Homo sapiens: one gene and its partners. The protein of the gene in region 3 purifies or fractionates together with the protein of the main gene of each other region. This does not show direct contact. Each region holds a gene or a part of one and is shown on either strand. Other genes may lie near its edges. The genes, in order: CACNA2D2, CACNA2D1, ALKAL2 and LTK.

Region 1 (4,524 bases), on a different chromosome or scaffold from region 3:
TCAAGATTCTGTCATTCAAATCTACATAAGGTCAGGACCTAAGGGGCAGACTCAGCCAAGCCCTGCCCTGCCACTGTGAGACTCAGGCTGTTGGCTTGGTGTCCCCGGTCCTGGTCCCGCTCCTCTCACCTGGGCCCTCACAGTGCTTTTCCTTCTGCATCTGGTCTGGACCTGCTGGGTCCCCAGCCATCACTGTTACCCGTGACTGAGCCTGGTGAGGGGAGAGCCTCACAAACCAGGAGACTGTCTAGCTGGGATTAGGTGGGGAGAATATTCACAAAGGAGTTCTGAAAGCCCCCATCTTAGGTGAGGAGGCCTCTGTCAAGGGCAAGCCCAGCCTAATCTTCTCAGTTGGGTAGCTTGCTTGGTGACCTTGGACAAAACCCCTCCTCCCCCTGGGCCTCAGTTTCCTTTCTTCCAGGATCCTTCCAACTCTGACATTCCAATGCCCTAAGAAGACAGATCTGGGGTCTTCCTGCTCCTCTCCACGCCCTGCTTTAGCTGTGGCCGCTGGGCCTTGTCTCTTCCAGTGTGAGGGTGCCTGGACCTCCCGTCCTCCTTTGGCCATACCTTGGGTGTCTCATGGCTGCTTTTCAGATTGACCCCCTTTGAGTTCTGATCAGCCTAATTGTTTAGCAGAGGGGGAGGGGCATGGGAAGCCTTTCCTGCTGATCAGTATCCATCTTTCCCACCTTGGAAATGATCCTCATTCAACAAAGGGGAAGAGGTGGGTGAAAAGGCTGAGAAGTCACTCCTTCTGCCTGTCTTTTCCCTGCCCCTCTTAGACCCTGGGCCCCTTTCTTCCCCTTTGATGCCTGCCTTCCCTGATGGCTAGTTCTTTCTGAACAAGCCCCCTCTTCGTGTGCACTGAGACTCTGCCACACCTCTCAACAGCTGTGTGACCTTGGGAACTTCCACAGCCTCTCAGGGTCTTGGAGCCTCATCTGTAAAACAGGGCTTCCGTGGCTGTACTGCCACATAGGGTTGGGGTGTGATAGACTGTGAGGGATGGGCCTGGCCCCAGGGAGTCTGTGATAAGGGCATGTGGATCCCGACTGGATCTAGGGGGTATTTGCAGTCTAGCTGGGCCTGCACTCCAAGTGCCAGCCACTATCCCCTCATCCATAGCACCCAGCACCCATCCAGGCCCTACAGGCACTTGGGACCCACTTGTGGTTTGTGAGTCTTTCCTCTTGTGTTTGGCTCTTGCCTTTGCCTGTGTGCACATGTCAGCTTGTATGTGGGCGTGTCTACACCTGTGTGTTCATGTATGTGTGCATGTGTCAGACGTGTTCACATCTAAGCATGCTTGTGCGTATACCCACTTGTGTGCGTGTGTTTGTACTCACACATGGATGCATGTGTGTAGATGTGTGTGCATGGGCATTCTCGTGTGTAGGCAGCAGTAGGTGTGTGCGTGTATGTGCATATGAAGTCAAATGCGGGCATGTGCTTGGGAGCCTATGTAGTGCAAGCACACGTGTGGTTTATCTCTGCAGCCAGAATGGGCTCCTAGTGCCCACCTTCACCACCTGCCTTTGAGGTTAATGCCAGGGCTCGGCTGGGCAAACACTGGCAGTGGGAAATAAAGCATCCTGATTGTTAGGGCCAGTGTTTTGCAAACTTTTATGTTAGAAACAGCCTGAGTTAAAGCTGAGCTGGAAAGTTTGATCTTCTACCAACTGGCGTGATGACAGTCTGCAAAGGAAACAGAGGCTGCGTCCTTGTAATTCAAATTTTTGCAAATTGAATGGTATTTACATTCAGTGGAGGACTTGGGACTCAGAGGAGCTCCGTGAGTCCTTTGTGAAGTGAAGCATCTTTGCAAACAGCCCTTCCCCGCGTGGAAAATCTGGAGGGTGGGCGTGGAGCCTGGGCTCAGGCAGAGTGGGAAGCTCTTGCTGTGTGACCTTGGGCTGGCACTTTTCCCTTTCAGAGTGGGTGCTTCTCATTTGCACACTGAAGGGCAGGAGACTGGCAGCCCTTGAGTATCTGCTGTGGGTTTGGGTCCTCCCCGCAGCAAGACACTGTGGGCACGATTTGGGCTGTAAAAACTTTGGCTTGATGATCCCTTGATGATCTGGAGGGATGATTCCTCCACATGTTCTCCATCTGGAGCATCTCCAGCGAAGACACTTCCTTCAAGGATGGATTTTTGTCTACTGAGTCTTCATAAATAAGGCTGTCCAGTGATGCCCTGTGATGGGCCCTGGCCCCAGTAGCTGTGTGGACCCAGTTCTCGTGGGTTCTGTTGTCTGAGAGTTTTGCTTTCCTGGCATTTTCAGGACGCGCCTGTGTGTTGTCAGTGCTGCGATGGCCCAGGGCCCTTGGGATTTTGGGAAGTGGCTGTGAGGGGCTCAGGAGCCTACAGGCCAGGAGGGGTTCCTGTGGGGGCAGGGAGCCTGGGTGCAACCGTCTCCTTGGGCATTATGGGCTTTGCATGCGTCCCTGACTTGGAAAGGACATGCCACAGCCACAGAAATCCCTGAGGTCCTGATACCACCATCATATAGACACGGAAACTGAGGCCCAAGATGGGGGAAGGGAACCTTCAAGCCCCACATATCTGTGGCTGCACATACTCTGTGGGCAGGGCCCAGCCCTCATCCCTAATGCTCAGTACAGACTGCGGGGAGGGCGACTCCCTATGCAGCCTTCCTCGCACTGATGTACAGCTGTTTCTCTTAAATAAAAATATCCAGCCGGGTGCAGTGGCTGACGCCTGTACTCCCAGCACTTTAGGAGGCCGAGGTGGGAGGATCACTTGAGCCCAGGAGTTGAAGATCAGCCTGGGCAACATGGCAAAACCCCATCTCTACAAAAAAATACAAAAATTAGCCAGGTGTAGTAGTGTACACCTGTGGTCTCAGCTACTCAGGAGGTTGAGGTGGGAGGATGGCTTGAGCCCAGGAAGTTGAGGCTATAGGGAGCTGTGATGGTGCCATTGGACTCCAGCCTGGACACAGAGTGAGAGCCTGTCATTTATAAATAAATAAATAATAAATAAATAAAATCTATGGCATGGGTCGGGGGGCAAGTTGAGGTCTGCTTTGGCAAACTCGAAGGGCAAGATGTCTATGTGGTGTGAGGCCCCAACTCCTTGGGTTTCTGTGGGGCAAACTCTGATGTCCCTGTGCTGTTTCAGAGACATAAAAGCTTTCTGGGTCCCCTTGGGAAGGACAACTTTGTCACCAGGCAGTGTGGGCTTGGAGGGGCTGGCGTATTCCTGAGATGGTAGAGGCCCATGCTCTGCCTCGAGTTTCCAGCCTGACGTGGCATTTCAGTCTTGATCACTTCCTTCCACAGCCCGTGTTCTCCTCCTGCTGGCCCCGCCTAAAACGCTGCATTTGAAGCCTTAAAGGTCAGGTCTGGTGCTGCCACCAGTTCCAGCAAACAAACAACTAAACAACCCACCCCCGCCCTGCCCCCACTTCAGTTATGAGAAAAGAGAAGGAGCTGGCAGAGCAGGCCTCTGTGCTAAGGGCCCTTGCAAATGGGCATTTCTCCTTTCTCTCTGTGAGCTGAGTCCGTGGTGGGTGTGTTAGGGCCCTGGGAGTCTTTGTATCTCTCCTTGGACCCCCCGCCAGGCTTGCTGGAGTGTCTCCCTTTTGGGCTAGCTGGGACCTTGCACCCCAGAAACCTGCCATGGGCAGAGCCCCACTTCCCTGGCTAGCCCCTGAGGCCTTGCCTGGGCTGACTCCAGCCTCCGGCCCTGGGACTATCTGGGACACTTGAAGGTCCTGGGAAGAGCTCTGGCCTCCGCACCTCTGGCTTTCGCTCACTGCTCACCGTGTCCCTCTCCAGGCTGCTGGCTTCGCCCAGGGCCCTGGGGCAGGAGCCTTCCTGACCAACACCCTCCTCCGGCTCCCTGCCCTTTGTGAGTCCCTCCTCCAGACCCGTGCCCCGCCTCCAGCTCTGTGCCGGGTCATGGGGCCCTTGAGGAGTAGGCATTGAGCTGACTGCGACCCCCTCAAGATCTGAGTCTGAGGAGCGCATTTGGCTGCCAACAAGAGGCTGCTTCTGTGCTTATCATGTGTGGTGGGTTTTCCTCATGGTGGGCCCTTTATCCCCTGACAGGGAGCCAACAGGTGTGTGATGCGGCTGCTGGCAAAGACCAAGTGGTCACCTGTGCTCAGCCTGGTGGCCTCGCTTTTGGTGTAACTGTCTGTCCTTGGCCAACTTACTGCATGGCAACAAGATGGCTGCCACAGCTCCAGGCATCATCTGCAGACCCAGGTACTAGGCATGGAAGAGATGTCTCCTCTGGGTTTCTCTTAAGAGGGGAGGAAACCTTGCCCAGAAGCCCCCAGCCGACTTCCTCTCACATCTCATTGGCTGGCACTGAGTCACATGCCCACTCTGAACCAATCACTGGCAATCTAAACAGTACACTGTGATTGGTTCCGGCTAATCAGGATTTACCCTTGAGCCGAGGATGGGGTCACCTTGGGCTGGAGGTGGAGATTCTGCAGAAGGCAGGGAGTGATGGAGGATGGGGAAGCAGTGTCGGCTGCAGGGTCAGAG
Region 2 (3,441 bases), on a different chromosome or scaffold from region 3:
GAGTATATTCATTCTAATATTTCTTGGTTGTCTCAAGACAAATCTCTTCCTAGCTTAGCTCTCTATTTTGGATATATATTTGCAAAGCAAAATCCTATATGTGTCCAAATAATGTATTTGAACCAACATAAACAATGGTTCAAATACATTATTCCCATTTTACTTTAATTCTTGATGAAGGTCCAGATGCTATGATTGCACTCTATGTTGAGCCTTATAAATTGTATAAGAAATATGGGAAATGGAAATGTATTTATTTTACCAGTCCCCAACTTTACCATATGGAGCATAGTTGCTAAAATCATAATTCTTGGGAATTATAAAACCTACTATTAAATTTTACATTTATTTCTTGCATTTATAAATATATAGGATTTTTGATACTGTGAAAGTTTTTTCTTTAAAATTAGTATATTATTCAAACAGCATTTATTATTTTCTTTCATAATCATCAAAAGCTACAACTAAAAATTTAAAGCATTTGTCAAATGATGCTAGGGAAATTCCTCAATGATAAAATCTAGGAGAAAGTAATTTCTTTGGATTTCAATTACAGCAGTTTTATAAGGTAAGTTCAGAAAGTGAACTAAATATGGATTACTCTGAAAGATGTGTTACTAAATATTTTTCAAGATTTTTAGATTTTTCTTTTTCTGTTCTTTTCTTTTTTTTTTAACAACAGGAGGATTATACTGACTGTGGTGGTGTTTCTGGATTAAATCCCTCCCTGTGGTATATCATTGGAATCCAGTTTCTACTACTTTGGCTGGTATCTGGCAGCACACACCGCCTGTTATGACCTTCTAAAAACCAAATCTGCATAGTTAAACTCCAGACCCTGCCAAAACATGAGCCCTGCCCTCAATTACAGTAACGTAGGGTCAGCTATAAAATCAGACAAACATTAGCTGGGCCTGTTCCATGGCATAACACTAAGGCGCAGACTCCTAAGGCACCCACTGGCTGCATGTCAGGGTGTCAGATCCTTAAACGTGTGTGAATGCTGCATCATCTATGTGTAACATCAAAGCAAAATCCTATACGTGTCCTCTATTGGAAAATTTGGGAGTTTGTTGTTGCATTGTTGGTGATTACATGTGAAAGGGTTCCCCATACAATTGTTAATGAACCATAAGAAATGTCTTGATATTGACCTGGAATTTTGACTTGCTGCAATTTTACTAAGAAAATCTCTAAGGGGAAAGAAATTATTTTTGCCTTCACTTTTTCTTCTGTGAAAAGTTAATTCCTGCTTTAAGTAGCAATTATTGAAATATATAGAGAAAGAGAGAATTAACATTGGTCTAAATTGTTGAAATATAAATAATGGCTAATTTTCTATGAAAAATTTGCCATGAATAAAATGCCTTATGAAGAACGGCTTCTTTGCCAAAAATAAAACACAATTGATGACCAATTCAATTTTGATGGGGTAATGAATTGATGGTTTGAAAATAGTAACTAAGAAATTATTAAACTAAAGGTGCTTGAGGGAGAAATTAGAATATGTGACATATTTCCTCATAAATGTAAGCAAGCCCTTAATAAATGCTTTGATGTAATGTTCCTTTTGTTCACAGTACAGTTATGTAGTGCTAGCCAGATATTTAAAAATGCTCTAAGAAAAGCTTGTCAGGGGGGAGGGGGAAATGTTTTTCTTGTGATAAATGAACTTTGGTTTACCAAGGGTATTTTGCATGATGCTGCTGCTATTTTAACTTTTCAGTTGTTTTTTCTCTTACTGTAGAGTGTAGTCATTGAAAAGTTAACTGAGTGATATTGTTATGTAAGAATCTGAACCTTGCAGTGTAAATGCACTTAAGTCATCTTTAAAATGTTGTTAAACTACTCTGAATATACTGTGCAATGTAAATGCTGAATGATTGGGGTTAGATAAATGGTGAAATGAGAATTAATGAATTTTATACAGATTCATGCTTTCGCCTGATAACCTATGTACAGATATTTTAAGTACATAAATCAGATTTGACACATTTATTTTTTGAAAAGTACATATATGTTCTCAATGAAGATTCATCCTAGGTTTCCTCTTTGTTCGTTTCAATAGTAGCACATACAATCCAAAAGTTCCTGCTACTGCTGCTTTTGCCCTTCCATTTTAAATGGTATGATCGTTTGGCCAAAATTTCCATGCAAGTTGATAAGGGTTTTACAATAATCTGAACAAATAGGAAACCTTGAATCTCTATGTATGCACATGAATACTTGATTGTGAATAATAAAAGTTGTTTTTTATACAGCCTCATTGGTGAAAATGGTTAGTGTAGTAAATCAGATATTTCATTATAGACTAATATGGTAGCAGATTATTTATGCTTTTAAAAATTATTTTCTGGAGCAAACAGTATTTGAAGAAAAGGTAAAAACTATGAATGTGTAATTCTAAGAATAGTTAATAATTTTACTGAAGGCTGAACGTATGTAGATATTTTTTATGATAAAATGCAGTTTTTCTTTTTTTGGAACATGCCAATTACTGGTATGTGTATATGCTGGAAATTTTCTTACATATCCTTTTTAAGTCAAAGTTATTAACATTATCCAGCATGCTTTAATATGCTCCACATATCAAAGATATAACCAATAATTTAACGTAGCTTAAAAGATAACATTTGTTTTGTTTTTAGCTTTGCATACATTTGTAATTCCCTCCCACCACCAATATACCTTAGGTACCATTTGTGTACATTTCAAGATTTTTTTTTTCAATAAAAAGGTGGGGGGAAATGGAATCACTTTGCCAACTATTGTTCTAAGAGTTGACATCAGTTACCATTTCTAATGCATTGTTGTGATTTTGTAGTGTCATTCATAACTGGTATTGACATTTTAGAAAACACCAAAGTGATTTAAAATATATGTGGGGAAAAAAACTTCTCACTCTAGTAACAATGTTTTAATCATGTTGTTTGTTAAATATTTAAAAGTTATTGTTCAATTTTTGCTAGACTATCTTAAATCATGATAGTGTTGGGAAGGGGGTATCAAAATATAAAATTGTTAGTTTGTGTATATAAACAATGCACATTAAAACAATTGAATTGCTTCCAGCATACAACAAACTACCTTAAAATTATGTTCAAAATCTATTAAATATATTTTCATGGCTAATGTCGAGTATATGTTTTCATCAATTACATTGTTATTGTATTAATCGCGGTTAAACTTGGCATCTCTTGGCAGGATCCTATTTAATTTCTGTTGCCATCAAAATATATTTATATGCATGAGTTTTGCTATAAACCTTTATTTTCTGCTATAAAGTTATATATTATGACAACCATAAATGCAATTACAAATTGGGTAAGAACAAGCTGAATAAAAGTTGTTCCCATGACTAATATTAGTCTTCATGCTTTTAGCATATTTTTTAAGACAGTAACACTCATCCCATCAAATTATTACATTACATTTAGTATT
Region 3 (5,002 bases):
CTCGCCCACTCCGCCTCTCTGATTGCACTCAGAACACCTTTCCCAAACAGATCGCGGACTTGGAAGACGTCCAGCTCTTGCCCAGAAAGCACCAATCGAATGGGAAAGTGCGCAACTGATTGATAATACATTTTACAAGAATAAAATAAAAGAGGCAAATTGCTGAACTTTCACAGATGTGCCGGGCTTCGGCCAAAGAGCCAAACTTTCTTAAAGACGAGTCCGGGAGGCAAGTGCCCTCCTGCGGGCGTTCCCTGCCGGGGCGCGAGGGACCCGCGGGCCGAGGGTCCAGCGCAGAGGAGCGCGCAGATGGCGCGGTCCTTGCCGGGGAGGGACCTTCGCTCGTCCTCTCGCAGGGGGTCTGGGGAGGGGGTGCAGGTCCTGCCCCTCCTCGGGTGGTCAGCTGTGCGCACCTCGGGGGCCGTGGAGAGTCCTCACCCGCCCATCTCCTGCCTCCTGGCCGCCCCGCCTCGGGGACCAGGGCTTGGGGACCCGAACCTGGGGACTGGGCTCGGGCGGGGCAGACCCCTCGAGGTCCGGAGAGCGGATCCCTCCAAAACGGATGGACTCTAATTGACTTATTAAATGTCGAAGCAATCAGGCAGCTCCCTTTTTAATAGCCCAAGATCTACATTTAGACAAAAACAGAACCGAGTTCCTGGTAAAGGCGTTTCTTCTCATCCTGTCACAAGTGACAGGAACGGAGGGAAACAGACTGGGGGAGGGGCGGGGGGAGGAGAACAGGGGGAAGAGGAGGAGACGGGGAGTGGGGGAAGGTGGGGCAGGAGAGGAGGAGACGGGAGATGGGGAAGGTGGGGAGGGAAGGGGCGCGGGAGACGGGGCGCGGGCGAGGGGGAGACGCGGTGGAGATGCGGGTGGGGGGACCGGGCGGGGGCGGGGGCGGAGTTGAGGGGGAGCGGGAGACGGGGGGAGGCGAGAGCGAGGTGAGGCGGGGGGACTGACGAAGATCCGCATGGGGGTACTAACACTTCAGCGGCTTCTAATTAAAGCCCCGCTCGGAGCCCTTGGGGACCCGCCTGACGTCGGCGGGCGCGGGGATAAGAAGCTCCCCGAGGTCTGAGGCGGGACTCGGAGCCGGCGCACCCCAGGTCGGCCGTGGGTCCAGCGCTCGGAGCGGCCGAGTCCCCGCGTCCCGTGCGCTCCGCCCGCCGGGCATGGAGTAGTGGCGCAGCTCGGGGCGCGGGGACAGACGTGCGCACAGACGGCGACGACTCCGGCGGCTCCAGGTAACCGGCCCGGCCACGACGCGCAGGTGGCTCCCGGGTGGCGCCGGGCAGGTGCGGGAGGGCGCCATGGCCGGGAGGTGGAGGGGCTTCCAGCACGTGGCGCGGCCGGGGCCAGCGCGAGGGTCCGCACCCGGCCTCCTCCGTGGGCTTCGGGGACTCGGCGCTCGCCGGCGACCACCGCGCAAAGGCGACGCTGGAAACTTGAGCGCGGCCGCCGGGCCCGGCGCGCGGCGCCGCCTTCTTGGAGAGCGGTAGGCGCGGGAGCGCGGCCCCTCCGAGGTCCGCCCGCGGCCGGGGAGCTGCCTGGCACCCGCGGCTTCCAAAGGGGAAAGAAAGTTGCGCCCGCGCCAGGCGCAGCGCGCTCGGCGGACGCGGCCTTTCGGGCGAAAGTTAGGAGGGGCCGGGCTGGCGGGCGGGCGGGTTCCGGGGGCTCCTTTCCGCACCAGCGGCGGTCGCTCCCCGTGGGCGGGACCTCGGGCGTGATCGTCGAGGAGACCGCGGCTCCCTCACCTGCCGGCTTGTTCCTCGGGGTCCGCGGAGGTGAGGGGCCGGGTCCAGCGCCAGCGGCTCCTCCCGCCTCCCCTCCCCTCCCCCGCCCCGCGCTCCGTCCCCCTCCCCCGCTGACTTTCTCTCCGGCCCCCCGCGCCCCTTCTCTCGCAGCGAGCCCAGCTCTCGGCGCGTGTCGGAGTCTCCCAGCCCCGCGGCCCCGAGCGCACGATGCGCGGACCCGGGCACCCCCTCCTCCTGGGGCTGCTGCTGGTGCTGGGGGCGGCGGGGCGCGGCCGGGGGGGCGCGGAGCCCCGGGAGCCGGCGGACGGACAGGCGCTGCTGCGGCTGGTGGTGGAACTCGTCCAGGAGCTGCGGAAGCACCACTCGGCGGAGCACAAGGGCCTGCAGCTCCTCGGGCGGGACTGCGCCCTGGGCCGCGCGGAGGCGGCGGGGCTGGGGCCTTCGCCGGAGCAGCGAGTGGGTGAGTGGGGCCGAGCGCGCCCGAGGGCCGGGGCTGCTGGGAAATAGAATTGTCTTTGAGAAACACGTTTCAAAAAGAGACATCAATTTTGACCACTGAACAGCAGGATTCCTTTTTTTTTTTTTTTTTTTTTTAAGAAAAAGAAAATAGCAGCAATAGGTCCGCGCATGAGGCCTGGCGGAGAAGCGCCTGGTCTCCTTCTGGCGCGCGTGAGCTGCGGCGCGGGTCGGTGGTTTCCACACTAAACTGTCAACCGTCACTTTGGAAATGGAAGCATTTCCAGCAAAGCTTTCCCAACTGAAAAGGAAGCATCCAGGCTCCTTCATGGCCCTGCCCAGAGTGGTGGCCCACGGGGAATTTCCCAGGAAAGCATGAAAGCGTCTAATGCTTTTGTGACACAATCAGGTCAAACATGATAAGGTCAGTTTTATCCCGGCTGCGTCAAGTTAGGAGTGAATGAAGACTCACTAGGGGGTCAGCTGTGGATGCGAATGCTCCTCTTCAGAGGGCGTGACTTCACACACAGTCGGGGCTCAGCCAGGAGCCCTGAACGGGGGAGTGAAGATGGAGAGGGCTGTAAATACGCAAAAACAAAGCTGAACTCAAGAAGAACGCCCTTGCAGGGTTCTCCCCACCCACTGTGTGCGGAGAACCCTGGTGGAAGAAGTTTGCTTGGCAGAGTCTTTCCCTGGGATTCTTACCCTACAAACCAGGTTCATGCATATTCCCACTAATTTACACCTCACTGAAACGTGGTCTTTTAATCCTTACTCTAAATATGTATCTAGATAAAGTAATGTTCTGTAACCCATTTTTTTGTTTGAAGGGTCAGGTTTTCTCTAAAAACTTTGAAATGTTGTGGGATTTGATTCCCAAGGTCCTTAAAACTAAAGTGCCTAAAAGTGACTTATTCACTGGAAGTTAAATGTTTAAAAGAAAAAAAAAACAGTTTTCTTACCTCTGTAACTTCGTGGTCTCTGTCTGCATCCCACGGGGTAGACAGCCGACATAATCCTGGAGCTTCAGGAGCAGTTACTGTTATTTCAAGGAAAATAAATGTCCCTGATATTGAGTCTTCTTCACTGTCGTGTGTTGCAATCCAGGGCCCCAGTCTTTTTTATTTTGTGCAAAGCAACTTGGCTAATATGGAGCTCCAATTTTCTTCAACATTCACTTAAGATCACATTTTTAAAAAATGCGTCCTTCAGGTAATATAATACTTTCTTTTCCCTGAAACAGAAATTGTTCCTCGAGATCTGAGGATGAAGGACAAGTTTCTAAAACACCTTACAGGTAAGTTTTCTCCTCGTTCCTCACGTCTCCCAGAGCTCCTTTTCACCTGTGAGTCTTCATGATCTGTTTCTTCTTCCGTGTTCCAGGCCCTCTTTATTTTAGTCCAAAGTGCAGCAAACACTTCCATAGACTTTATCACAACACCAGAGACTGCACCATTCCTGCATGTAAGTAACAGCATTGGATTTTTATAAAATGCAAGAGCAGTGCAGGCAGCGGTTCCCCTCTTTCCATTTCCTCATATAGGCCCCTGCCTTCTTAGCTCAAATTTGCCTATTCCTTCCTCACTATGGAGTTAGGGGCCAAGATCGCCAGACCATTGCAGAAGATAACTAACTTCTGCATCAGCTAACGCCAAACTGGAAATTATTTACAGTCATTGGAATAATAGGCTCTTGGGATGGGCTGAACTCCGATTCTCCTCCTGTTAATTCTCCTCCAATGCCCATGTTTGTGTGTACTCTACTATGGCAGTCAGATGTTAAGAATGAGTTGCTAAACTGACTCCAAGAATAAGATTGACCTGGATCATCTCCACTGCTCTTACCAGAGACTTTTTCTTCCCATTGGTAATTATAACCTCATCACCCAGGAATTTCATTGTGATTTCAAAACTGTTTCTCTGGCTGGCTCCATCACTCCTTCAGAAATGCAGAGCTGCCCTTATCAACATAGCTCTCAGCAGTAGCTTTCTCTCCTGTTTCTTTTCAGTCTTCCTAACCTGCTTTTGGCTATTTATTCATAACAAAACATTTTATTTCTCCAAAAGTAGCTCCTTGTTCTCTTCACTGAAGCCTTATTAGCTACAGTGATAGGGCCCTAACCCATTTTTTTTAATTCGGACTCCAACTTTGATTTTATTTAAGGCTCACAGGAGAAAAGTCATGCAGAAACACTAGGCATCCTGCTAACTGCTGTCATCAGGGCTCTCCAGCTGGACCAGGCAGCGTTCCGGACTTGCTGTCCTGCCTTCCCTCTCCAAAAACAAACAAACGAAAAGCCAATGTACACGAAGTATAAGTGCTTTTCTTTGTTTAGGCAGCAAAATTACTTCAAATAATAATAACCATCATTTATAGAGCTGCTTCTGTGTGCCGGGTGCATGCCAATGAACCTTGGCCCACTGAAGTAGCGTCACCAGCGCGTTTTGGACAAGGCTAAGGCACATGCACTTTTAGCATTCACATCACCGCACAAAGATGCATGGAACGCAGCCTCGGCCCCTCTGACCATACCTTTAGCAACATCATCCTCACGCCAAGGCCAGCAGCACACACTTCCTGAAGAGTTTTTATATTCTTGGTGCTGGGCCCCACCCTTCCATGTGCACCTGGCACACTAGTACTCTCCTGTTTTCTTCTTTTGGAATGTAATCACCTGTTTGGGAATCATTAATGTGGCTCTTGGGGCCAGAAAATCTTGTCGTTTGTATTGTTTTGATGTACATATATTTTATATTACCTATTTCCTTACAGTAATAGGATCATAGATT
Region 4 (4,524 bases), on a different chromosome or scaffold from region 3:
CCTTGGCTGGGCCGCGGCCGGCGGCTTCGGGGGCGGCGGCGGGGCCTGCACTGCGGGCGGAGGCGGCGGCGGCTACAGGGGTAGGTGCACCGTTGGAGAGGGCAGCTGAGCAGGCCCGAGGGTGAGGTGATGTTAGAACCTAAGTACAGGCCGGAGCCCTCGGGAGGATAGGTGTGGGAGAGGCATTAAGCCCTGCTCAGCAGCTCCAAACAAAAAGCAGGAGCTCTTAGAAAAGGAGGTCAAATACACTGCAAATCAGCATGCAGACAGGACTCCCTAGATTTCCGTTTAATCCAGGATCTTTCCCATCACAGCAGGTCCCTGCCTTGTTCTGCAGCAGTCTTCAGAACTTAGAGCTGGCCGAGTGAGCAAGCTGAGCAAAGGGGCAGAAAGGCAGGATTGGGTTAAGTCAGTGGTTCTCAAAGTGTGGTCCAGGAACAGGTAATATCCCCACAACCTAAGTTGTTCGAAATGCACATTATCAGCTGGGCCTGGTGGCTCACGCCTGTAATTCTAGCACTCTGGGAGGCCAAGGCAGGTGGATCACCTGAGGTCACCAGTTCGAGACCAGTCTGGCCAACCTGTGAAACCCTGTCTGTACTAAAAATACAAAAATTAGCCGGGCGTGGTGGCGGGAGCCTGTAATCCCAGCTACTCTGGAGGCTGAGGCAGGAGAATTGCTTGAACCTGGGAGGCGGAGGTTGCAGTGAGCCGAGATCACTCCATTGCACTTCAGCCTGGGCGACAAGAGGGAAATTCTGTCTCAAAGATTAAAAAAAAAACAATGGAAATTATCCTGGGAGTTGGGGGAAGGTTGGGGAGATGCTGGTCAAAACAATGCAAAATGGCAGTTAAATAGGAGGAATACCTTCCAGAATCTACTGTACTACATGGTGACTGTAGTTAATGACGATGTATTCTTGAAAATCGCTAAGAGAGGCGGGGCGCGGTGGCTCACGCCTGTAATCTCAACACTTTGGGCGGCGGAGGCGGGTGGATCTTGAGGTCAGGAGTTTGAGGCCAGCCTGGCCAATATGGTGAAACCCCCATCTGTACTAAAAATACAAAAATTAGCCGGGCGTGGTGGCATATGCCTGTAGTCCCAGCTACTCGGGAAGCTGAGACAGGAAAATCGCTTGAACCCGGGAGGCGGAGGTTGCAGTGAGCCAAGATCGTGCCACTGCACTCCAGCCTGGGTGACAGAGCAAGACTCTGTCTCAAAAAAAAAGAAAAGAAAATTGGTAAGAGCGTAGATTATAGGTGTTCTTACCACAGAAAATAAGCATGTGAGGTGGTGTATATATTGGTTTGCATTAGCCATTGCACAGTGTGTACATATTTCAAAACATCATGCTGTATACAATAAATATATGAATTTTTTTTTTAGATGGAGTCTGGCTCTGTTGCCCAGGCTGGAGTGCAGTAGTACAAATCTCAGCTCACTGCAACCTCCGCCTCCCGGGTTCAAGCAATTCTCCTGCCTCAGCCTCCTGAGTAGCTGGGATTATAGGCATGCGCCACCATGCCCGGCTAATTTTTGTATTTTTAGTAGAGATGGGGTTTCACCATGTTGGTCAGGCTAGTCTCGGACTCCTGACCTCGTAATCCGCCCATGTCGGCCTCCCAAAGTGCTGGGATTACAGGCGTGAGCCACCACACCTGGCCCTGAATTTTTATTTTTAATTAAAAATTAATTTTTAAAAAGAAATGCGAATTCTCAGCCCTTCTCTAACATACTGAATCAGAAACTGTAAGGGAGAGTCCCAGTCATCTGTGTTTTGATCAAATAACTAGTGTAAATGCCTTTGTGCCTGTCTGGGCTGTACTGCTCATACATACACACATGATCTACATTCTCACAGAAAGGGACTGTGAGGACATGGGACAGGAGGGGCTCAGGCAGGCAGGAGGCATCCCAGCCAGCCTCAGCGAGGCCTTCAGGCTCCAGCTGATTACCCCCTCCTCACCTCCTTCACTCCCACTTGTGAACAGACAGCATTTGCATCATGATGCTGGAGAAGAGAGGGCCACACTGGGATTTCCACCGGGAGATTCCAGCTTCTCCCCCATCCCCCATTTTTGTAGTCAAACTCTCCATCACTCTCCACTTCCAGGGGGCGACGCTTCAGAGACTGACAACCTCTGGGCTGATGGGGAAGATGGAGTATCCTTCATACACCCCAGCAGCGAGCTCTTCCTGCAGCCTCTGGCAGGTATTGGCCCCAACCCCACCTCTGAGCCTGGCCTGGACTTCTTCCGCAGTCCCTGAGCCCACTCCTGCACTGCACTGAAGAGCCACCTGCACTGTGAATAACCTTGCATAGCACAGGATTCTTGCATAGCATAGGGTCATTTGAAAAGTGGGCTGTCATCATGCCATTGCACTCCAGCCTGGGCGACAAGAGCAAAACTCTGTCTTAAAAAAAAGGAAAGTGGGCTGCCAGTCGTGCTGGATGGCAATGCAGGGCATGCTGCGTGCTTTTCAAGTACCCCCTTGCTATGAATTCGCTTCAAATACCTGGGAGTGTGCAGGCTTGACAGAAGTCCCCCAGCTTCTCTCACCACCCTTGTAAGCTTGGTGCTGCTCTTTGCTCTAAAGTCCTGGGCTAGAATTAACCATGTGGCTGGAAAAGGCATGTATTTATTTATTTATTTATTTATTTATTTATTTATTTATTTTTATTTTTGAGACAGAGTCTCGCTCTGTCACCCAGGCTGGAGTGCAGTGGTGCGATCTTGGGTCACTGCAACCTCCGCCTCCCGGGTTCAAGTGATTCTGCAGCCTCAGTGCTGGAGTAGCTGGGATTGCAGGCGTGCGCCACCACACCCGGCTAATTTTGTATTTTTAGTAGAGGCGGGGTTGGCCAGGCTGGTCTTGAACTTCTGACCTCCGGTGATCCGCTCACCACGGCCTCCCAAAGTGCAATGATTATAGGCGTGTGCCACTGTACCCAGCCAAAGGCATGTATTTACTATATCCCAGCCCTACCACACCATATCATATCAGTTCTTTTACTCACAGTCACCGAGAACCACGGAGAGGTAGAGATCCGAAGGCACCTCAACTGCAGTCACTGCCCTTTGAGAGACTGCCAATGGCAGGCAGAGCTCCAGCTGGCTGAATGCCTGTGCCCAGAAGGCATGGAGCTAGCTGTGGATAACGTCACCTGCATGGGTATGTCCTACCTTTGCCCAAGGTCTGGACTCCTGGGGTCACAGACTGGGAGGAGCAGTAGGCCACTGGGAAAGATGGTATAGAGATTTGCTGTGTGCCAGGCCCTGTGGTGGGTGCTGGGCAGGGGATTGGAGATTCATCGGTGCACAGTGCCTTTCAGAGGCCTGTCGTCCAGTGTGGGAGGATGTTTAGATATAGCTATGTAAATGTATATCTCAAGTGACGATTGTTGTGGGAGGTATAAAGTGCTTTAGGGGTGTTCAAGAGGGAGAGGTTGCTTTTGCCCAGGATAATGGGGGAAGGCATCATGGAAAAATTAACACTTGAGCTGAGTCTTGAAGCGTGGGTAAAACTTGAGGGTAAAGGAACAGAGAAGACCTTCCCACTGGAGGTGTCTCTCTTTCTCCCTAGACCTGCACAAGCCCCCAGGCCCTCTGGTTCTGATGGTGGCTGTGGTGGCAACCTCAACACTGAGCCTCCTTATGGTGTGTGGGGTCCTGATTCTGGGTACGAAGCGTCTAGCAGGCACAGTTGATTCAAGGCTGCTCCTCTCCAGTGAGCTGGGATGGGTTTCTGCGGGGTCCCGGGGCTGACTTCAAGACCACTCACCGCAGCAGAGCCGTGGTAGACTCCTCTGGGATTCTAAGATAGGAAGGAGCTGGGGAGGCCTGGGGAAAACGTTTACCTTAATGAGCATCTGGAGGGGTGTCCTGGGCAGGTGGGGGAGGGAGAGTTGATGGGCAGGTGGAGGGTGTGCCGTTATTCTTCCCACCCCCAGTGAAGCAGAAGAAGTGGCAGGGCCTGCAGGAGATGAGGCTGCCGAGCCCTGAGCTTGAGCTGAGCAAGCTTCGAACCTCTGCCATCAGGACAGCCCCCAATCCCTATTATTGCCAGGTGGGGCTTGGCCCGGCCCAGTCCTGGCCTCTGCCACCAGGTGTCACCGAGGTTTCCCCAGCCAATGTTACTCTGCTCAGGTAAGTCTTCTGCCTCCTTCTGAGAACCTATGCACTCTGAATCCCCACCTCTGATTCTCTCCCTGCTGTAGTGAATTATAAGTCCCAGAAAAAATCTGGCCCACATCCCTTGTGTAAGGGAGAGGGAGGCCCTGAGAAGCTCCAGAAGGGGAAGTAACTTGCTCAATGTCACCTCTCCGTCCCAGTTCTTAGAATATGATCTCTCAGCTGGGCGTGGTGGCTCACACCTGTAATCCCAGAACTTTGGGAGGTCGAGGCAGGCAGGTCACCTGAGGTCGGGAGTTCGAGACCAGCCTGACCAACATGGAGAAACCCCATCTCTACTAAAAATACAAAATTAGCTGGGCATGGTGGCGCATGCCTGTAATCCCAGCT

The links.
Region 1: the proteins of ALKAL2 (region 3) and CACNA2D2 purify together in Homo sapiens (affinity purification with mass spectrometry; one large-scale study listed by BioGRID and IntAct). This does not show direct contact.
Region 2: the proteins of ALKAL2 (region 3) and CACNA2D1 purify together in Homo sapiens (affinity purification with mass spectrometry; one large-scale study listed by BioGRID and IntAct). This does not show direct contact.
Region 4: the proteins of ALKAL2 (region 3) and LTK purify together in Homo sapiens (affinity purification with mass spectrometry; one large-scale study listed by BioGRID and IntAct). This does not show direct contact.

Annotation. Positions count from the first base shown.
Region 1 is NC_000003.12:50,493,152-50,497,675, reverse strand, and holds part of CACNA2D2 (voltage-dependent calcium channel subunit alpha-2/delta-2 isoform b precursor), read left to right. Parts: intron 1-4,524. UniProt on the Homo sapiens protein: The alpha-2/delta subunit of voltage-dependent calcium channels regulates calcium current density and activation/inactivation kinetics of the calcium channel.
Region 2 is NC_000007.14:81,947,750-81,951,190, reverse strand, and holds part of CACNA2D1 (voltage-dependent calcium channel subunit alpha-2/delta-1 isoform 1 preproprotein), read left to right. Parts: intron 1-682; coding exon 683-799; 3' UTR 800-3,441. UniProt on the Homo sapiens protein: The alpha-2/delta subunit of voltage-dependent calcium channels regulates calcium current density and activation/inactivation kinetics of the calcium channel. Plays an important role in excitation-contraction coupling.
Region 3 is NC_000002.12:284,798-289,799, reverse strand, and holds the start of ALKAL2 (ALK and LTK ligand 2 precursor), read left to right. Parts: upstream 1-1,708; 5' UTR 1,709-1,787; exon of another isoform or gene 1,788-1,835; intron 1,836-1,907; 5' UTR 1,908-1,964; coding exon 1,965-2,217; intron 2,218-3,175; exon of another isoform or gene 3,176-3,456; coding exon 3,457-3,510; exon of another isoform or gene 3,511-3,596; coding exon 3,597-3,677; exon of another isoform or gene 3,678-3,871; intron 3,872-5,002. UniProt on the Homo sapiens protein: Cytokine that acts as a physiological ligand for receptor tyrosine kinases LTK and ALK, leading to their activation. Cytokine-binding is sufficient to activate LTK. In contrast, ALKAL2-driven activation of ALK is coupled with heparin-binding to ALK.
Region 4 is NC_000015.10:41,506,720-41,511,243, reverse strand, and holds part of LTK (leukocyte tyrosine kinase receptor isoform 1 precursor), read left to right. Parts: coding exon 1-80; intron 81-2,114; coding exon 2,115-2,213; intron 2,214-3,007; coding exon of another isoform or gene 3,008-3,022; coding exon 3,023-3,175; intron 3,176-3,586; coding exon 3,587-3,682; coding exon of another isoform or gene 3,683-3,730; intron 3,731-3,780; exon of another isoform or gene 3,781-3,799; intron 3,800-3,953; coding exon 3,954-4,149; intron 4,150-4,524. UniProt on the Homo sapiens protein: Receptor with a tyrosine-protein kinase activity. Following activation by ALKAL1 or ALKAL2 ligands at the cell surface, transduces an extracellular signal into an intracellular response.